Homo sapiens: one gene and its partners. The protein of the gene in region 1 interacts with the protein of each later gene in a biochemical or structural test. Each region holds a gene or a part of one and is shown in the gene's direction. Other genes may lie near its edges.

What was found.
Region 2: the proteins of RAP1A (region 1) and RAPGEF2 form a complex in vitro, tested with the Homo sapiens proteins (2 studies listed by BioGRID and IntAct, with this or other methods).
Region 3: of the proteins of RAP1A (region 1) and RAPGEF3, one has a biochemical effect on the other in vitro, tested with the Homo sapiens proteins (one study listed by BioGRID).

What each region holds. Positions count from the first base shown.
Region 1 is NC_000001.11:111,692,789-111,699,788, forward strand, and holds part of RAP1A (ras-related protein Rap-1A precursor), read left to right. Parts: intron 1-2,552; coding exon 2,553-2,621; intron 2,622-4,652; coding exon 4,653-4,709; intron 4,710-7,000. UniProt on the Homo sapiens protein: Counteracts the mitogenic function of Ras, at least partly because it can interact with Ras GAPs and RAF in a competitive manner. Together with ITGB1BP1, regulates KRIT1 localization to microtubules and membranes.
Region 2 is NC_000004.12:159,098,583-159,106,089, forward strand, and holds the start of RAPGEF2 (rap guanine nucleotide exchange factor 2), read left to right. Parts: upstream 1-4,496; 5' UTR 4,497-5,580; coding exon 5,581-5,649; intron 5,650-7,507. UniProt on the Homo sapiens protein: Functions as a guanine nucleotide exchange factor (GEF), which activates Rap and Ras family of small GTPases by exchanging bound GDP for free GTP in a cAMP-dependent manner.
Region 3 is NC_000012.12:47,748,870-47,755,900, reverse strand, and holds part of RAPGEF3 (rap guanine nucleotide exchange factor 3), read left to right. Parts: coding exon of another isoform or gene 1-52; exon of another isoform or gene 53-199; intron 200-1,873; exon of another isoform or gene 1,874-1,967; intron 1,968-3,931; coding exon 3,932-3,985; intron 3,986-4,071; coding exon 4,072-4,178; intron 4,179-4,380; coding exon 4,381-4,502; intron 4,503-4,639; coding exon of another isoform or gene 4,640-4,684; coding exon 4,685-4,853; intron 4,854-5,475; coding exon 5,476-5,560; intron 5,561-5,910; coding exon 5,911-5,971; intron 5,972-6,083; coding exon 6,084-6,160; intron 6,161-6,364; coding exon 6,365-6,511; intron 6,512-6,969; coding exon 6,970-7,031. Other genes in the region: SLC48A1 (heme transporter HRG1), read right to left, coding at 1-52. UniProt on the Homo sapiens protein: Guanine nucleotide exchange factor (GEF) for RAP1A and RAP2A small GTPases that is activated by binding cAMP.

The sequences.
Region 1 (7,000 bases):
GCTGAGGGTAGATACCTGTAAAATCATAGAGTATCTCTTCAAGGTTAAATAAGCTATGAATAACATCAGTTACTTTCTTGGGAGTAGGATTGGATAGCTGGGAACAAGGGTGGTAGATAAGCTTAGTTATCACTGCATAGCCTTTTGTGCCTTTTTGAATTTAGTCCTATGTCCATGAATTACCTTTTCAAAAATAATTTTGGAAAAAGTCCATAGGAGTGAAAGAGGTCTAGGGAGATACTAGAGAGAGAAGAGCAGAGCCCAGGACTGAGCTCTGAGTACCTCTCAACCTTTAGAAAGTAGATAGGATTGGAGGATCTAGCATAGAAGAAGGTGTCTTTACTTGATTCCTCAAAAGTCAAGTAAAAAAGAGGAAAGAGATGATCAGAGAGCATAGAGGCAGTTGGACATGATAAAGGAAGCAGCTTTAGTCAGGTCATGTTGCCATAACCATAATGGGGTGGGTTGAAGATTAAATGAGAGCTGAGGAAATGGAATATAGACATTTGAAGAAGCTTGATTATGAGAGGGGACAGAGAATGGGGGCAGAAGCTGGAGAGATATTGGGGTTAAGGGAGGTTTTTGTTTTTGTTTTAGAATTGGAGATAGTAAAGCATATTTGTATGCTGGGGGCAATTCCTCTCCACTGGAGAGGAAAATAAGGATACAGGAGAGGGAAAGAGGAGATGATCCAGTACAAAAACCTGAGGAATAAAATTATAATCTATGTGAATGAATGAATGAGATGTCCCTGAAAATTAAGACAGAGGATAAGATTCAGAGGAGTAGTCAAACATTACTTTTAGTAAGAAAGAAATGAGAAACGTTGGATTGTTTTGCATTTTTGCAAGTCTTATTAATGTCTGGCTTATAGAAGGCACATGGGCTCTTTTGCCTGCTTCTGTATCCAGTCTCTTTCAATAGCACATGTTCTATACCCTTTGGAAGATTCCACTGTAAACTTATGAGAGAAGAAGAAGAGTACCTCTTAGAATACATCTTAGTATTGTTAGGAAGATAGTTTGACCTTAGGGAGCCTCTGCCTTGGACCATATTTTGAGACTCTCTGCTCTAGCCTAAAGCATATTAGGAAGCTGTATTAGACTGCCTTTTTTTTTTTTTTAAATCTTGAATCAGCATCTTGCCCTGGAGTGCAGTGGCGTGATCATGGCTCACTGCATCTTCAACCTCCTACACTTAAGCAATCCTCCCACCTTAGCTACCCAAGTAGCTGGGACTACAGGTGCATGCCACCACACCTGGTTAAATTTTTAAATTTTTTGTAGAGACAGTCTCACTATGTTGCCCAGGTTGGTTTCAAATTCCTGAGCTCAAGCAATCCTCCTGCCTTGGCCTCCTAAAGTGCTAGGAGTACAGCATGAGCCACTGCATCCAGCGTAGACTGCTTTGTATATTTAAATTATGTGTCGTACTTAGAAGATGAGGTGATTAAATCCTTGATAAAAATCATGATTAAGGTTTTTGGTGTGATTATATCTTGAGTTGCCTTTGAATAATAGAAGCTTAGTAGGAGAAAGAAGTTTGTTTACTATATTTGAGTTAATCTCTTTAGCTCAAGCTAAAATAGTATATCAAATATTCCTCTGAGTAATTTAAGTGTAGATGACCTCAGTCCACATTCTTACCCTTGCTTTTTAGGCAATAATGTACCAGACCCTGTTTTAAAGTTACCTAGGAAATATCTTAAAACCGTCTTCTGTACTTTTTTCACTTACTGAATGATAAATACGTATTTTCTAGTATGTGCTTTTGGATGCCTTTAAAAGTTGATAATATCTGAAAAAGATGAATGGGCAATATTTTCCAATGGAAAAAGTAAGGCTTTGGAATCAGGAAGATGTATGTTTGAATCTCAGCTGGCAAATAGGAAGAATAACTATTTCTGGGACAAATGTGAAATTTGAATGTGGTTATAAATTAAAAGTGACTAGCTTAATGTCTGGAACATAATAGACATTCAGTAAGTTTAAATTTCCCTTTCTCTTTTCCACCACAATTTAGAAAGGCTTTAACAAATTTACAAGATGCTGCTTGAGGTCCAGCTACCTGGGAGGCTGAGGCGGGAGGATCTCTTGAGTTCAGGAGTTCAAGGCCAGCCCAGGCAACATAGCAAAGACCCTGTGTTTAAAAAAAAATTAGAACCTTTGTCACTCCATTAAGGGCAGAGGGCATGGGATAAAAGTTACTATAGATATATAAAGGGGCAATAGGAGTTTAAATATTGATAATTTTTCATGTTTTAATTAGTTCAGATATGTTATTTGTATCCTTGTATATTAAGACTTAATGTAATTAACAGTGTATTATCAGTATTGATGACAGTTTTTAACATGACTACCTCCTTTCATAATAAATGTACTCTTAGTTATGGATGTATCCTTATATTGAAAGAATTAATAATATACTTTACATTTACGTGTTTACCCAGAATTTTCACATAATTTCAATTAATCATTATAATTTGTAGGTTAAGTAACATTCAAAGGAGTTTTCCTTTAATTTTTTAATATTTCTCTTTTTTTTTCCCCCAGACAGTTCAGTTTGTTCAGGGAATTTTTGTTGAAAAATATGACCCAACGATAGAAGATTCCTACAGAAAGGTAAAATGTGAAACTTGTACACACATGCTTACAAGTAGTTCCTTATGATGTTAAAATTTGATCTGTAGATTTGCTTTTTGAAAATAGTTTTGAGAAATAATACAAATATTGTGCATCTGTTTTTAAAAGTTTCATCAAGACAGAACATTTCTTAACAGAATACTACTTTGATATTCAGAGCTCTATGTTCTGTTACTGATTAGTGACTTGTTCCTTAATGTGGACATTTTCCTGGTGGGGAATGTTGCCACATATGAAAAAATTGCATATAAATAGTAGGTGTGTTTTCAACTTACTCTTTTGTTACCAACAATTAAGACCACCTTTATGCTTGAAGTTATCCAGTGACTGAACATTTTTATTTTTGTTTAGTTTTATAAGTTTAAAGATATCTTTAGACTACCAAAAAATTAGAGTCTGTGTAATACTATAATTGGGTTATATGCCATACATTTGTCAAAACCCATAGAATGTACCATGCCAAAAGAAAATCCTAATGTAAACTGTGGACTCTTGGTGATAACGATGTGTTCATGTGGGTTCATCAGTTGTAACAAATGTACCACTCTGGTGCAGGATGTTGATGGTGGGGTGAGGCTATGCATTTGTGGTGGCAAGGAGTATGTGGGAAATCTCTGCACCTTCCCCTCAGTTTTGCTGTGAAACTAAAACTGCTCTAATAAAGTCTATTTAAAAGGGAAAAAAAATTAGGTACTTGGTCTTGACAAAAAATATTCTGTAGAAGACCAGCCAGAGTTGTGGAAAATTTTCAGTATTTTCTATGTCAAATATATTGGGTGGGGTGGAGGTTATAAAAGGCTAGTAGCCAAGAATATTTTTTAAAAAGATTAAACTTTAATAGGAAAGGATTGCTTTTGAAGACATTTTTAGAATTTACCTTTAATAGTGCTGTAACTTTTGTTGAATTAATTTGTTAGTTCATGAAGGACTACTAGTAGAGCAGTTTCATTGTCTTCAAATTGGAAACAGAATTATGCTCTAGATACATCAAGAAACTATAGTCCTAATTGATTATTCACTGAACATTCCCAGTTACAAATTTTGCAGATTATCACACTTGTCCCATAAGTGGTGGGGTGGATGAGTTTGTGGTCTGACCAGTGGTGCCCCTCATCAATGTCTGATCTGACACAGAAGCAGAGTTTAAAATAGTCTTTAGGTTAGCACATTTATTTTTAGAAGACAGTGTTGCTCTACTGAAATTTCCCCAAAGTAAGTTGCTAGTTAAAGCTTTAACTGCAAAGCAAGATCTGTACCTAAAATTCTAAGGGACTAACTTTTCTTAATCCCTTCTTTATTAAAACAGTTTTCCACACAGTTGATAGTTGATACTTTCATTAGACCAACCTTCTTTTCTTTTATAAGACCAATGGGTAAATAGAACTCAGTGTATAAAATTTCACCTTTCACATAGAGCTTTTCTAGAAAAGTGCCTTTTTCTTGAGGCACTGTTTTAGCTCATTGCTGTTTATTTTAGTACTCCTGTGTTTCTTTTATGTCTTAAACTCAGATTTTACTGTGTATTTAATTTTCTGCATATTTTAGTAAAATTTTAACAACTTGAACATGGTAAGTTGGCAAGATTTTCTTTACCCCAAAATGTTGTGCGCATTTTGAGCCATTTAATATTTTTGTACTTTGTTTTCTTTGGAGATAATATAAATACACATATGTACTTTTTTTTCTGTTAGAACTATACTTGTTCGTTGAAGTTTTCCTTAAATTTCAAAATATGACTTTTGCCTTTTCTAATAACAAATAAGAATCGTTACAGAGGTCAGAAAATATCTAAACTCAGCATTAACCATCTTGGCTTCTGTAATATGAATAGACTGTACTTGAGACCGCTGTTCTTTATTGTGGTACCAAGTTTACCCCCAGCCATTACAGCATACTGCTGGAGACAGGCTTTGTATTTGTTAATAGTTACTTTGATGGAAGAGGTGGGAAGAAAACAGAATGAGATTTTGATGTTACTCTTTAACCTTTTTTTTTTTTTTGCCCCCACAGCAAGTTGAAGTCGATTGCCAACAGTGTATGCTCGAAATCCTGGATACTGCAGGGACAGTAAGGATGTTTTCTCTTTTTTTGATAGATTTTAATTTGTGAGCAGGTTTTGTCATCTGAGTAGGTTTTGTCATCCAGATAATTCTGAGTAAAAGTAATCATTCTGATTAAGAAGAAATTCTCTGAACATAGGGATTCTTAAGTATATGAAATCAACTCTGATGTAGTTCATGCTCACATATCACAAAGTTCACCTGTAATAATCTGTGTGTTGGGTTTCTTCCTACATTGAGGTAAGGATTATGCTGTCAGTGATTTTTTAAAATTTATTTTAAATTTAGAGCTTTAGTTAATATTTGTATTTCTATGGGTTTAAATAAGACCTTGTCTCTTGGCACCATAGTCATTAATTTTTATAATTTTTTCTTTTCACTAGCATTTTGACATCTCAAGGGGCTGGTGACAGATACATGTTTTCTGAGGAAGGCAAAAATCTTCCTCAGAAGATTTAGAATTATTTTGAGCCTCCTTTTTCTAATCTTTAAATGAGTATAATGATGTTAGTACATCATAAGGTGTTTGTGATAAGCAAATGAGTTAATAATTATAAATCATTAGGCATAATGTCTGTTACACAGTATGGAATTGTGTATTTGCTTTTATTCTTCTTCATTAATACCATCACCTTTATAATTTTTATTAATAACTGATGGTTTCCAGTTATACTGCCACATAAAATACATACATTAAGCAATCTTTGCTTTTCTTTGTTTATTTTTCTCCATGCACATAGACTTGACACATTAGGCAATTCTTAGCTTTAAAATGGATGGGTTCGTTTTTTGTTTTGCTTAAGAGACGAGGTCTTGCTCTGTCACCTAGGCTAGGGTGTAGTGGTGCAATCATAGTTCACCGCAGTCTCCTGGGCTCAAACAGTCTTCCTGCCTCAGCCTCCTGGGTAGCTAGAATTAAAGGCACGTACCACCACCCCCAGCTAATAAAAAAATTTTTTTTGTAGAGGTGGTTTCGCTGTGTTGCCCAGGCTAATCTCGAACTCCTGACCTCAAGTGTTCTTCCTGGCTCTGCTTCTGAAAGTGCTGGGATTATAGGTGTGAGCCATGGCACCTGGCTGGCATTTTTAAATGTGATAAGTTGTTTAAAATTCAGCACAAAGTTTTCCACTATAATTTTTATAAATGATGGAAACATTTCAGATAGTTCAAAAAAGCATGTAAGCAAATTGGAGTGATTTTATACAACAATATAGTACTAATTATACTGTATTTTTCCATTCTTTTTTGGGAAAATGGCTTAACTCTTATCAGGGACCTTTGCCCTCACAACAAGCTTCTGGTAAAGACCTTCTGAAACTACATTTTCTATCAGCTGAATCAAGCTATCTCTCCCTCTCCCACCCTCCTGCTCTCTAATGTTTTTAGCTTCTGAATCAGCAGAATTCCCCTTTGTTTCCAGAGACCCTAATAGCTAAAATGAATACTTTCTGCTTTTTTTTTTTTTAAATCACATCCACAGTGTACGGGCATTCTTCTTTCTCTGTCCAGATTGTAAGAAGGAAGTTCTCTATCACAGAGATCTTTACTTTGTGCTATCCAATATCGTGTCTGTCTCCCATCTAGCACTCAACACGCTGTGTTATAAGGCCTATTTGCTTGTTTGTGTCCCCAGTACCTTGCATAAAACCTTACAAACAGCTGCATAATCTTGTCTCAAAATCACTCCTTACACTTTGAAGATTTTTGCTTTCTCTCTTTCACATACACTGATTCAATCAGAATTCTTAGTGATTTTACTATCCATATAGAATCTATATGGATATTATAAATGATTTACTACCCTGGCTTGGCCTGTCATTTCCTTGATGTCCATCCTACCTTTAAGGCATTCATACCATGGTTTTACTCTAGGCTATGTGATTACCAATAAGTATAATACCTCTCTAATCTAATTTCCAAGCATCTTATCCTCCATTACTCACTACTTTTTTCTTTATCCATCTCACTTCCTCTTTTTTTTTTTTTTTTGAAACAGGGTCTCTCTCTGTCACCCAGGCTGGAGTGCAGTGGTGTGAACACAGATCACTGCAGCTTCAACCTCCCAGGGTCAAGAAATCCTCCCACCATAACCTCCTGAGGAGCTGGTGCTACTGCAGGTGCATACCACCACACCTAGCTTTTTTTTTTTTTTAATTTTTTGTAGAGACAGGGTCTCACTATATTGTCCAAGCTGGTCTTGAACTGGACTCAAGGGATCCTCCTGTCTTTGGCCTCCCAAAGTGCTGGGATAACAGGTGTGAGCCACTGCACCCAGGCCATCTCATTTCCTTTAGTGCC
Region 2 (7,507 bases), on another chromosome or scaffold:
TGCTCTGTCTCTCTTCCCATCCCCCAGTGATTTTCTAGATAATATGATGGTAGTAGAAACAGAACAAAGAAACTCTCATTTTTACACTTGCCTTTATGAGGCAGCATAATAGATAGCTTACTTTGATTATGGTTTGCTGACACAGTTTGGTTTAGACTAATTGGCAGAGTGGCAGATCTTTGTCTAATTCTGTCTTCCAGGTTGTGCCTAGCACATTACTGGTGCTCAAATGTTAATAAAACAGCAATGCATGCCAAGTATCTGATGTCCTAGATGCTGAGTGGTGATATGCATTATTGACATATGTAGATAAGTAGGTTATACATAGTGTGAAAATTAGCTTTAATTGAAGTTAAATGATAGCTTAGAAGTTGACAGTGAGTTAGTCATTTTGTTGGTGGATAAGACATACTATTATGTCTTACCTGAGGTGATTGATGTAATTCAGTGTTACAGTAGAGCACACAGAGAAAAAAGACTTGGGTGTGCAACTGGAATTCCTAACTCTTGCTGTGAGATCTGGCAGAGAGGCATTCCTGTCTGGTGTAGAAGGTCCCCTCTAGCATCCCCCCTCCCCATGGGGCAAGGAGTTCCATACTCTCTGAGCACCTGGAACCCTGGTCCTGACTGCCTTGCCACTTCCAGACCTCATCTTCCAAGGCTGGCCCCTGGCCCGAGGAATCACCAAGGGGTGGCTTTTTTGAGGGGTGTGATATCACTTAGATGTGTAGGCTGGGTTGTCCTTGTCCTTTTTTTTTTTTTTTTGAGATGGAGTCTCACTCTGTCACCCAGGCTGGAGTGCAGTGGCTTGATCTCAGCTAACTGCAAGCAACCTCCACCTCCCAGGTAAAAGCAAATTTTCTGCCTCAGCCTCCTGAATAACTGGGACTATAGGCACACGCCACCACGCCAGGCTAATTCTTGTATTTTTAGTGGAGACAGGGTTTCACCATATTGGTCAGGCTGGTCTGGAACTCCTGACCTCGCGATCTGCCCACCTCGGCCTCCCAAAGTACTGGAATTAGTACAGGCATGAGCCACCGCACTAGCTGGGTTGTCCTCTTATGTGTGAGCCTTTCCATGGGATAGGATGAAGCTGAGATGGAAAGAAAAGGGGATTCCAGTTGCAGACCAGATACCAGTACTCCCTGCAGTAGTACTCAGTACTCCCCCAGTTAATTTGTAGCTTTTAGTATTTATGATAGAGTATATGGATCCCCATTTGTTAGCTGGCTCCAGAACTTTCTAAAGTTAAAGGCAGTCCGGGAACTAGGACAAGTCATGTAGCCTATTTTAGTGTCAGTTCTTCATCTGTAAATAAGATAACACTGTCCCACTAGCCTCAGAGAGTTGCAATGATGAGAATAATCTTAAATATAACTACCATTTATTGAGTATATACTGTTGTTAAACCACTATGCAAGGCACTTTGCATGTATTATCTTGGATCGTCACAAATCTTCAGGGTATGCAACTTTTTCTTTTTTTGTGACAGGGTCTTGCTCTGTTACCCAGGCTGGAGTGCCATGGTGTGATCATAGCTCACTGCAACCTTGAACTCCGGGGCTCAAGATAACCTCCCACCTCAGCCTCCTGAGTAGCTAGGACTGCAAGTGCACCCCACCATGCCCCGCTCCTTTTTTTTTTTTAAGTTTTTGTGCAGCCAGTGGTCTTGCTATGTTGACCAGGCTGGTCTTGAACTCCTGGCCTCAAGCTATCCTCCTGGTTCAGCCTCCCAAAGTGCTGGGATTACAGGTGTAAGCCACTTTGCCTGGCCAGACTATTCAATTTGTACTCTCTTTTTATAAAACAGAAAACAGGCTCAGAGAGGTTAAGTTTCCTCTCCCAGTTTTCTCCCCGCAACCAGGGACACAAGTGAGATAATGTATGTAAAAATCTCATACAAATACAAGGTAACATGAACTACTTCATGTATCCATTTAATACCTATTTGTTGGCTGCCTGTCTTGTGTTGAGGATATAGCAGTAAATAAAAGGGACAAACATCCCTGACTTAGAAGCTTACATTACAGTGGAGGGATAAAACAATAAATAAAATAAATAAGTATAGATGGTTCTCAATTTACGATGGTCAATAAATTGACTTTCGATTTTTCCACTTTATAATGGGTTTATCAGGGTATTAAATGCATTTCTGACTTACAATATTTGCGACTTACAATGGTTTCTCAGGATGTAACCCCATCCTAAGTGGGCAAGCACCTGTACAATATACAGTATGTTAGGTGGTAAGTAAAGCGACGAAGATAACCAGAGTGTATGGAGTTACAGGGAAGGTGACATTCAAATGAAGATATGATGACAATGAGGAACAACATTCTATATTTTGGTTGTTGTGTGTGTGCATTTTTCTTTTTGTTTTTTGTTTTTGTGGGTGCAAGTGGGGTGGGGAGAGGGGGAGAGATAATCCAGGCAGTAGAGGGAACAGCAGATGGAAAGGTCATGAGACTGGAATTTGCTGTTTCAGAAACAACATGGAGGCTAATGTGCTTGGGAACAGAATAGTAGAAGAGGTCAGAGAGATAAAGGTCCATAGGATATTCAGGCCATGGTAAGACTTTGGCTTTTACCTTGAGTGGTATGAGGAGCTAAGCAGAGGAATGATTTGAGAAGGAGTGAAAAGAATTCACACTTTGGCTGCTGTGTTGGAAATGAACTGTATGGCAAGCAAGGTTAGAAAGAGGGGGACCAGGTGGGTGGTTATGACAAAGTGCTGGCCAGACATGATGCTGGATTGCACCAGGGTCATGGCAGTAGAAGTGGTAGATAAAGGTTAGAGTTCAGATATGGCATTCTGGAGGTTGAGCTGACGATTTTTACTGACACTTTTGAGGTATAACAGAAAGAAAGGAGTCAAGGAAGTCAACGTTTTCACCCAGGAAGTGAGAATGGTGTAGATGTGATTAACAGAGGATGGGGAAGGCTGTGGGTGTCTGAGACAGGAGATCTGGAGCCTGGTTTGCACATGTGAATTCTGAGATGTCTATTAGACACCAGGTGGAGATGTCAGTTATATTTTTTCACTTCATTGGGTTTGAATTCTTTTATCTGCCTCTCTCCTTTTTTCAGAGCTGTATTGGCACTTATTCATGTTCCTTTGCTTTCAAGGTAGTGGCCTATGTCATAGAGAATTTGATGTTGGCGCTCAACTAAGAGGTGAAAGAGAAATATAGAGAAGCAGTTCCAGCAAGAGTAATATAAAAAGGTCTACAGATACAATTTGTAACTCAGATTCCCTTTCACAAGGTTGGGCAGGGACAGTCCCTTTGCTAGGAAGTCACACAAGCTGTTTAGTGCACACAGGTGACTTAAGGAACCCCAAAATGTTAGCTGACAATCTATTCCAAGTGTTTAAACTAGATGTTGAAAATCATGTTTGAAAAGTTCAACGCAGTAGCTCATACATAAAACTCATTGTGTCTATAGATATCAAAATAAGAACTTGTGGGGGGTGGGGGCAAACAAAAATAAATCCCTGGGACCAGAACAGCAGAGTGGTCCCCGATGCTTGGGCTGACCTTAACACACCTCTACGTGGCCGGGGCAAGGAGTGGGGGGGAGCTGAGGGAATCAGCAGGAGCGGTGACATCTTGAAGGACGAGGTATTGTTTCTGCACCATGTGGGTCCGGTTTGGAAATTTGAGCATCTAGAGGAGGAGGCTTGTTCTGTCCAAGGCAAAGCCAGACCTACCAATAAATGTTTCTGATTATGTCACAGAACTTGCCATCCTGGTCTGTCGCTAAGGAGTGATCAACTTTAAATCTGGAGTGTTTGTTGGTCTAGGGGTGGTAGTGGGTCTGGTGTTGAAACCTCTCTGCCTAATTTCGTGGTCATTTTACTGTCTGAGGTGCCAGAGTGGGCTTGGAAAGCAGGGGAGGGTGCAGCAAATTACAAATAAGCAAAATAAATCCTAAGAGGATTTATCGCCACAGAAGCAACTCGGACGCAACTCTTGGGCTCAAAAAGAATGCCCAGTACAGCCCGGGCTGGTGGGCCGGTCTTTTGCCCAAGGTTAGCTTTCAGCCCCTGGGCGGCGGCGTGGCGCCAGGAGCGGGCGGGGAGCAGCGACCCGACGCGGCTGGGTCTCCTAGTAGGGCGCGTCGGGTGTGGGGAGGGGGCGCGGCGTGAGACAGTGGGGGACACTGCGTGAGGAAAGCCCTGCGCTTCTCTCCGGGGCACCAGGACTTGCGCCCCCTCTTCGGGTCCAGGCCGCGCGCGGGACCCGACAGCCCGGCCGAGGGCTCCGCGACCCACTTGCGGCCAGAGCGCTGCTCACCTGGGCGCCGCCGAAGGTGCCGCTCAGACGCGAGGGCGCGGCCGCTGGCGGGCGGGGAGCGGGGAGGCGGGACCCGGCGCGACGGGGCTGCCCCGCCCCCCGATGATGCGGCGGCCGCCGACTCGCCCCCACGCTGTCACTCATTCCTCACCATGGTTGCAGCACAAAGCAACAAGCCCCAGAGGCCGCTTCCTCCCTGAGGAGCGGCTCCGGCGGCCGGAGAAGGCGCAGGAGGAGGAAGAGGCGGAGGAAGAGGAGGGGAATCGCCGCTTCCCAAACACTCTCTCCGAGGGGGCTGTGCGCGGCTCTCGGCTTTCGGCCCTCGGACGCCCGCGCCGGGAGTCCGAACCCGGGCTGTCCGCGGCCCCCTCTTCCCCCTCCTCCGCCCCGCGCAGACGAGGAACAAAGTTGCCGAGAGCGACTGGGCCGGAGGGCTGCAGCCCGGGCCGGGTGCTCTGGCCGCGGCGGCGCCGGCGCCGGGGCAGCTCCGCTCCGGGCGCGCTGATGGGGGGAGGCGGCGGCGGCGGAGCCCACAGCGGCGGCCCGAGCAGCAGAGGCGGCGGCGGCGGCGGCTGGGCGGCCCGAGGGGATGCAGCAGCAGTCGGGAGGGACGGCCGAGCCCAGTAGACAGAGACCAGGAGCGGCGGCCGAGGCGATCGGGCTTCGCAGCGCCCGGACCTGAGCCAGACCCACCTGGTCCGTCCTCCCGACCGGCGGCCGAGGCGCCCGAGGACTGGGGACGCGGAAGATCCAAGTGATTCTCGGAGACCCCTGGGCGGCGGCTGCGCAAGCCCCTGAGAGGAGGGGGCGACCCTCAGCGCCGTGGGGGAGGAGGCTCCGCCTGCCCACAGCCCTCCCCACTGCCACTCGTACCTCCCTAAAAATAACTCGGGCCCGCTGGGGCCAGGAGGAGCCGCCACTGTCCCCCGAGTGGAGCCGGGGAGGCGTGTCGAGCCAGGGCCGGAGGAAGCCGGCGGAGCGGCGAGGAAGAGGAGGAGGAGGAGGAAGGGGAGTTCCGCCTGCGGGCCGCATCGCACGGCAGCCTAGGGGCGCCGCGACCCTCCCGGCTGCGTCCAGCCCCTCGCGCCTGTACCGCGCTCTCGGCCGCCGGGCCCAGCCGAGCCGCCCCCCCGCGGGCCCCGCGCCGCCGCCGCCGCGGTTTGGCTGATTAGTCGCGGGCGGGCGGGCGGGCGCAGCGCGCAGGGCGGAGGCAGCAGCGGCGCTGGGCCGGGAGGAGGCCGGCCAGGGTGCGGAGCGGCCCCGGCCCGCTCCCAGAGGGGAGATGGCGTCCTACGTAGATAACAGCTTCCGCCAGGCGGTGATGAAGAATCCCCCCGAAAGGACCCCCCAGGTGAGAACGCGGCGGCCGCCTGCCCTTGGCCGGATTTCTGCCTCGCAGGCTGCGTCTTCCCCTGTCCCCCCACCTCCTTCCTGACACAGTTCGCCCCGAGCACCCCACTTCTTGCATCAGGACCCCCAACTTCCAAAGGCATCCCACCTCCGAGTCTTTTACTCCGCCTATCCTGGTTTTATTTTTCCCTCTCCTTGACATTCTGCTCCTTAACTCTTCCCTCCCCATGACTGACCTTTCCCACTATGTTGCCCAGCCGAGAGAGAGAGAGAGAGAGAGAGAGAGAGAGAGAGAGGGAGAGACAGAGAGAGAGAGAGAGAGAGTGTGTGTGTGTGTGTGTATGTGTGTGAATGTGTGAATTCTCTAGCTTTCCCTCTCCCCAGCCGCCCTCCGTGGCCTCTGAATCTCAGGGGATGGAGTCTCATCTCCCCTCGGGCAGCGACTCTTGCTCCCTCTGACTCCAGATCCGTTCCTCCCCTTGCAAGTGACCCTTGGAGTTCAGTGGTGTTTGAAAGGTATAGGAGGAAACCTGTACGGTTGTGCTAAAGACAAATCCATGCTGACCTTCAGTAAAACATTGAGGTGTTTGTATGTTTACTGTTTTGCTTTTATTTTTTAAAGGATACTGCTTTCAATTGAAGGGAAAAAAAGTTGAATAGCTAAGTTAGTGCTTTTAGTTTAAATTGCAGACATAGCTGCAGAGCAGGCATGTTCCAGTACACCCTCGGGAAGGGCACCCTGCGGATTCTTTTGGTGTTGCACAACCTTGTCAAAATTAGATAAGTTTGTTAACCTTTATACATTTGTTTACCTGCAGGCTTACTCTTCTCTTACTTATAGCGGCTGATAGGGTTGGATTTGGTTGTCTCAAGTTTTACTGGAGAGGGGGAAATTTTATAAAAATGTGGTAGCTTAATTTTCTCCGCCTTTAGTTGCTGACTGGATAATGACGCATATTCCTAAGCGTTGGGATGGTGACTATAGGAGATCCTGCCTGCCAACCCTCTTAAGACAAATAAGCCCTCCTGATCCTTGGGACCATCAGACATTTAGGATCTAATGCTTGAAAGTGTTGCTTCGCTTGTTAGATGTTGGATGCCATCTGTTCAAATCCAAATGCTCTCCTTCTCTGATGTTGATTATTATTTACTGTGGGGAGAGCATAATAAAATAGACTCTTCCCCTGGCTGCCTTTGGACAAGCCCCAAGAGTGGCACCTGGTACCGTTTTTGATTTTTCATTTTCCTTGATGGAGCTGTCACATCTGGGAGATCATGGATAGATTGCACATATTTATCAAACGTGTGGAAGATGGCTGTAATTTTACAAGAAAATTTATCTGTCTCCAGAAAGTTCCCATTCTAAAAGACTATTTTTATCCCAACAAGGAATGTCCTGCATTGATCTTGTTCTTCTCTTGGTGTTGCACACGCTGCCTTTCCTATGCCTTTCTCATCTATTTGTTTTAAAATGGTCAGTTGGATCAGTCTTCTGCATCTGAAAATGCACATTCCCTGTCTCAGTGTGAAGGAAAAGCAGATTTCAGTGAGATATTTCATTTCCTTTCAAGAATATTGTTTTAAGTGCCAAGTGAAATTACGCATGCTGAGAATATTAGAACCTAGCAAGGCTGGTCAGAAAATGATGTCAGAGGCCTTTGGTGGAAATTAGAGAAGGGGGAAGTGGTGCATTTGGTTGATTAGTTAGAAGAATAACAATGACTAAAACCTACTATCAGGTTGGGGGGCGGGTCACCAAACAAGACTAGAAGAGACAAAACCTCCACTGTGACTGTGGGCCCACTGTGCCAAATAAATGAACTGTTAAACTTTCCTGTTCCCCTGCCAGTTGTGTAGAA
Region 3 (7,031 bases), on another chromosome or scaffold:
CCTTTAGCCCAGGGAAGGCTTCCGTGAGGGAATGAGTGCCAGCTGTGAGCATGCACGCCCATGGTGAAGGGGTGGAGCCCGAGTCCCAGGAAGACAGCACTGCCAGTTATTGAGGCCAGACCTCCCTCTTCGAAAGCCAAGGGGAAAACCCATCAACCTCCCAGAGAAGAAGTCTGAAGACAGCTCTTTCTGTTCCTACCTAGACCAGGACAAGAGAAAATGAAAGCGGGTTACAGTAGGAGGGCTTGCAGTTAGATACAGACTAAGATAAGACTTAACAGCTATTGCAAAAGTGACACTGGAATGGGATGGAAGAACATCTTTGGAAAATAAGAGGGGGAGGTGAGATCTTGTCTGATGTCCGGGGGCAGGGGCAAGATCAGAGTGACCTGTGGTGGGTTCTACTAGCTCAGGGAAGTCTGAGATGATTCTCTTTGTGTGACTGTTCTTGGGGAAGTGGCCCTGTTTTGTAACTCCGAGAACGCACTTTCATTCAACCTATCCAAATAATAGTAGTAGTTAATAGTTATACAGTACTTATGTGCCAGACATTATTGAAAGAGGTTTGCCTTTATCATATCAAATAATTCTCACAACAGCCCTGTGAGATAGGTACTAATGTCATCATCTCCATTTTATAGATGTGAAAACAAAGCCACAGAGAGGTTAAGTGACAGATTCAGAGTTACGCAGCTGCTAAGTGGCAAAGCTGGGCTTTGGTCCCAGGCAATCTGGCTGCAGAGTCCAAGCTCATAACCACATAACCACCATGCTGCACTTCTCTCTTGCTACGAACAGTAACACTGACACCTTAAGGCATCATCCCGGCCCCATGCACCCTTCCCCTGTCCCACCACAAGCAGCCCTAGCTTGACACCTTAGCTATGGCCCAAGGGAACTGGTCTGACAGGTCCCCAGGCTGTCTGGCTCTGTGCCTGTCTCTCCAGCCCAGCTCTGACATTCAGTGACAGGGAGTGAGGGTGGGGCAGGCCACAGTGCTGGTGCCAGGGGAGTTAGTGCCTCCTCTTCCGCCCTGAACCCTTTCTGTTCAGGAATGAGAGTGGGGAGTGGGTGAGGAGGACCTTCACCTTGACTCATATCAGCTGCTTCTTCCCAACTGAGAACCCTGAAACTGACATGACTAGCATTGTATTTTTTTGCACTGTGTCCTGGTAATAGGGCCCATCATGAAATAATAACATCTGATCAAGTCAACTAAACTTACTAAGTAGTTACTATGATCCAGGCACCATTCCAAGTACTTTATATTATTAACTTTTTGATCCTCATAACCCTTTGTGATAGGTACTATTCATATCATCAACCCCAGTTTACAGATGAGGAAACCGAAGCACTGCAAACTTCAGTAATCAGCACGAGCTCACACAACCAGATGGTAACGCAAAAGCTAGGATTTGAACCCAAGCATCTGGCTGCAGAGCCTACACACTTGACCACTGCCCTTGAATAGCAGCCCTCTCTCCGCCCCATCCTAGAAGGTTGGCAGGCACACAAACATCCTGGGGGCACAGAGAGGGTAGAATAACAAACCTGTCTATCTTTGTCTAACCCAGTGGTTTCCAAACTTACTTGCCCACAGAACTTGCCTGAAGGCAGAATACCTCTACTGTCTGTGCCTATAGCACAAAGCTGAGGAAACATGGGAATAGGCATAATGGAAGACGGTAGGGCATAATGCTAAGAGCATGGCCTTTGGAATCAGACATAGGTATGAATCCTGGTGCCCTTATTGACCAACAGTTAGGGCAGGTTATAGAACCTTGGAGCTTTCTTTTCTCTAGCTGTGAAATAGGAAACAAATACCTACCTCTGGGGTCAGCACCAGTAGCAGAGTTATTCAGTAGAATCTTACCTTTCTAAATAGTTGTGTGATCTCTCTGGGCTTTTGCTTTCCTTGTCAAAATGAGAGGGATTCCTTAAAGTCCCTTCCTCAGTGCTCATGGACTAGGGCCATTCTCTGACCTGCATCCTCATCCCCTGGGGGAGGACAGGAAATGACCAACCTGGCCACGTGACCCAGCACCACCCCTCCTAATGTGCCCTCTCCCAAGTCAGAATAATACCAGGAAGGGGGCTGGTGCTGGAGCCTGGGTTGTGGGCTCCAATGGGAGTTGGGGCAGGGACTGGGGCCACCTGGGCATTTTGATATGAACAACAAGTCATTAGCACTCAGGCACTGTTTGTTCCGACACAGGGGGCTGGCTGGGTAGCATTCCTGCCCTTCCTCCCTTCCCTGGCTCCTCCTCCTTCTCATTTCCTGTCGTTAAGTCTCCAGGGCTCTGTGTCTGGCACTGGGCTGGGCCCCATGACCCGGGCAGGGATACCCTTGGGACACCTAGTGACTTCCGCCCAGCCCTGGGCCAGGCGCCTGCACATGCCAGACCTCAGGCCTCTGCTTGGGCACGCAGTGCCAAGATGCCTGTGCCCAGGGCCCTGCCAGCACCAGGACTGGTTGTACTGCAACTCCCCAGCAGGTCCTTTTCAGGGACCTGAAGCCAGATGGGAAGCTAGGAGAGAGGTGGCTGGTGAGGGGAGAGGAAAGGGGCAGGTGGGGTGGGTGTAGGGAGACTGAGAATGGGAGCACTTCTGGGTGGGAACTTGAACTTCTCCACAGCTGTCTGGCTGTCCGAAGTATGCGCAACTGAGTTACACAAGGTACCTCACCTCCAGGCTTTTATTTCCTTGTAAGTGACAGAGGACAGACAATGCCTGCTCTGCCTATTTCACATCTGATCCTATTTTACATGAGATCCAATGAAATCAAGGGGGCGATTGTGCTTTGTAAACTGTAAAGTGCTTTGTAAACTGTAAAGTGAGCCCTTTGAGAGGGCTCGTAGATGGTAGAGCATCCTGTCCAGAGATGTCCACAAACCCCAGATTCTCAGGTGGTAGGAAGAGAAGGGTCGTGAGGGGCTTTCATGGCCATTATTCCAGGGCGTACAGGCCCGGGAGTTCCAAATGGCTTGTTACCAAGGGCAGGGAATCCTTACTAAGCAGTGTTTCCATGATAAAGTGCGTCTTCCTGAGCCAGTCCTGTGTGCCACCAAGGACTTATTCACTCTCGCAGGGCACAGGCTAGCAACATCTCAGAGAAGAAAGACGCTTTCCAGCAAGCAGCCCCACCCTAATGCCTCACAGATGAGTACTAGCTAACATGTGCATACAACTATATGCCAGGCAATGCTTTAAACATTCGATGTGTAGCAACTCATTTAATTCTCCCAAAACCTCATGAGTCGGTATTATTAGTGCTTTGTAGATTTTACAGTTCAGGAGACTCAGGTAGGGAGGGAGAGGTTAAATCATTTGTTTCAGGTCACATCTGCCATCAGTGGGGAAGCAGAGATTTTAATCCAGGAGCCTGGCTCCAGGGTTTGTGTTTTGACAACCAGGCTGATCCGAGGCCCAGAGATGGCAAGACACCTGCTCATGGGCCTGTGGAAGGACACAGAACCTGGCTGGGGATCAGGTCTGTGACCCCAGCCCAGGAGCGGATGTTCCCAGGCCTCCTGAGCTGCTCACATCCTGGCTCCCATCTCCCAGGTCTTCTTATCTCATGTCCTCATGCTCCTTCCAGCTCCCTCACTTCTTTCCCCCAACAGGGGCAGTTCACCTGGGGGCATGGGCACACCTGGGCCCTGAGTAAGCAGAATGGGTGTCTTAGGGCTCTCAACTGTAGGGAGGCAGTCCTTGAGTTGGGTTTGGTGATCAGGATGGCAGGGTGGGAAGAGGCGATGCCCGGGGCACAGGGTGCTGAGTGAATATTTGTTTATTTGCTGAAGGAGTGGCCACATGGATGCATTTGGGGTTGGGGCCTAGGCAAGAGTGGGAGTGATGGGGGAGGGGAGGTATCCAAGAGCTGGGCTTGAAGACCTCACACTGATGTGCACGCTTTCCCTGCTGCCCCCAGACACCACTCACCAACAGCGAGGAGTCCCTGGATTTCAGCGAGAGCCTGGAGCAGGTAGAAGCCTGGGCAGGGTGGAGCTGGGACAGGCAGCACCATGAGGGGTTCAGAGCCTGAACTGCTGTGCCCTTCCTCCCTCTAAGGCCTCCACAGAGCGGGTGCTCAGGGCTGGGAGGCAGCTGCATCGGCATCTGCTGGCCACCTGCCCAAACCTCATCCGAGACCGGAAGTACCACCTTAGGCTCTATCGGTGAGTGGAGGCCCTGCTGCCTCCTTGCCCAGCCTCACTGCTTTCTCTCCGTTCCACTTTATGTCAGGCACCTGGGCCTCACCCTGCTTCTAGCACAGGGACGAACCAGGCTTGGGCCTCAGAGGGTGCCTTTCTAATGCATAGTTCCTCCCTCTCCCTGCCACCCTCCTTCCACTGGCCTGTCCCCTTCTACCTTCCATAGGCAGTGCTGCTCTGGCCGGGAGCTGGTGGATGGGATCTTGGCCCTGGGACTTGGGGTCCATTCCCGGAGCCAAGTTGTGGGAATCTGCCAGGTGCTGCTGGATGAAGGTGCCCTCTGCCATGGTGAGCCCGAGCCCAGGGTGGGGTGCCCCGGGCTGGGCTGGGCAGTGAGGGGGACAGGACAGGGCAGTCCTGGGAAGCAGGCACTACTTGGGGAGTGCTGAGGGGTGGCATCGCAGTGGGGTTTCATACCCACATAGCCTCAATTTCCTCTCCTCCCCCACGCCTGGGCCTCTGCCCCCCAGTGAAACACGACTGGGCCTTCCAGGACCGAGATGCCCAATTCTACCGGTTCCCCGGGCCCGAGCCCGAGCCCGTGAGAACTCATGAGATGGAGGAGGAGTTGGCCGAAGCTGTGGCCCTGCTCTCCCAGCGGGGGCCTGACGCCCTGCTCACTGTGGCACTTCGAAAGCCGTGAGTCAGAATCCCTGCACCCCGTGACCCCAGGCCTCACACAGCACTCAGATTTCACGGTTTCTCAGATTGATCTCTGGGGGCATCCCTTACCTGTTGTGGAGGGAAGGGAACCTGGCTGGCCCAGAAGCCCCTGGCGCTGACTGCCACGGACTCACTGTGTGACCTGGATCCCTCCACACTCCCAAACCCCCCCAAGTCAGTTTCTTCCTCTGTAGATGAGGATGTTGGACCAGGGGGATCTCTGAGGACCCTTCCCACTCAGAGACACAGTTGTGGCTGAAAGCAAGTGGGTTTTGGAAACTGCAGTCCGGTGGGTCCAGGTTCAAATTCCAGCTGGACTGGCTACTGGCTGGGTGACCTTGAGCCTCCTCATGCTAGTTCCTGTTCTGTCAAGTGAGGATGATAGAACCACTCCTTAGGGTTGTTGTGAAACAATGCATGCAAAATGCTCATCACAAGCGCTGCCACATGTGCGCACTCAGTAAAGGTTAGCTGCTGCTGATAACTGTCACTGCTGAGGCACCGTCTGGCACAGGCATCGGCTGGGTGGGTGGAGTGGCTCCCTGCACCTGACGGGCCCACAGTTCACAGTGTGCTCCCATTCCTCCTGTCCCTGCAGCCCAGGTCAGCGCACGGATGAAGAGCTGGACCTCATCTTTGAGGAGCTGCTGCACATCAAGGCTGTGGCCCACCTCTCCAACTCGGTCAGTCCTGCCCCTCCCAGCCCTGCCCCGTACCAGGCATCTTCTCTTCCTGTGACTTCCCTGAAACTCCAACTGCTGGGCCAGAGGGCATTTCTCCACTTCCATCTATGGCTGGAAATTTTCAGTCTGATTTCTTGCCCCCGGCGCTGCCCTGTCTGAAAATCCTTCCGCCTCTCTCAGCCCATTTTCTCCACTTGCTTTGTCTCCTGCTGAATCCTGGGAACACCTGACCTGGCCACATCTTTGTCCCCCAGCACTTGTGTCTTTGGACCTAACCACACCCCTAGCAAAAGCCTGGCTGCTCTGCACATGAACTTGTCGCCACCGACTCTCCTATCTCCACCACACAGGTGAAGCGAGAATTAGCGGCTGTTCTGCTCTTTGAACCACACAGCAAGGCAGGGACCGTGTGTAAGTCCAGCAGGGCATAAGAAGCCAGGCACAGGGCCTGGACATGGGCAGAAGGATGTGTGAAGGAATGGTAGGTGCCAGGAGGGCCCGGTCTGAGGTATGCTTCTGTCAGTGTTCAGCCAGGGGGACAAGGGCACTTCGTGGTACATTATCTGGAAGGGATCTGTCAACGTGGTGACCCATGGCAAGGTGAGCCCTCCCTCCTCCCCACCCCAGTGCCCTGGGTCCTAACTGCTCCCTGGTCCATGTCCTCATGGGCAGTGCCTTTGTTGATCTACTGCTGCTGACCCCGTGTCTCCTGTGTGGGTTGTTCTCCTGCCGTGGGTCTGTCCTGGCAAGAGCTGGGGGCGGCAGGGGCGGCAGGGGCGGGCTGAGACTGAGGCCTGGCTGCAGGGGCTGGTGACCACCCTGCATGAGGGAGATGATTTTGGACAGCTGGCTCTGGTGAATGATGCACCCCGGGCAGCCACCATCATCCTGCGAGAAGACAACTGTCATTTCCTGCGTGTGGACAAGCAGGACTTCAACCGTATCATCAAGGTGCTGCTGCTGGGGTTGGGGAGGGCAGGGGCCATTCGTCCAGAGAAGTGATGTGGAGAGAGGAGTAGGGACCAGAGCAGAGGGCCTGTAAGAAGCAGGGCAGGTAAGAGATGCTGGGCTATGACAGCTGGCAGTGGGACCATAGCCCTGGGTGTGTGTGAGAAGGTGAAGCCCATAAGGCACAGAAGGAGTTCAGTGAGACCAGTGACTTCAGGCTCAGTGTGGGAGACCAGGGGAAGGATGGGCATGCAGGGGGCGGGGGACTAGGCTGTGGGGGAGGCAGGATGCATGGAAGGTAGGGAAGGCTGAGGAGGTGGAGCCAAAGTCGGAGGTGGGAGAAGGGCTGTGGGTCCCTGTGGGACCCTCATGGGGCTCAGGGGCTGGAATGAAGGAGGTAGATGAGAGGGTCTAAAGCTGGAACATCATGAGTTGAGCATGGGATGTGGCCTGTTCTCCAGGATGTGGAGGCAAAGACCATGCGGCTGGAAGAACATGGCAAAGTGGTGCTGGTGCTGGAGAG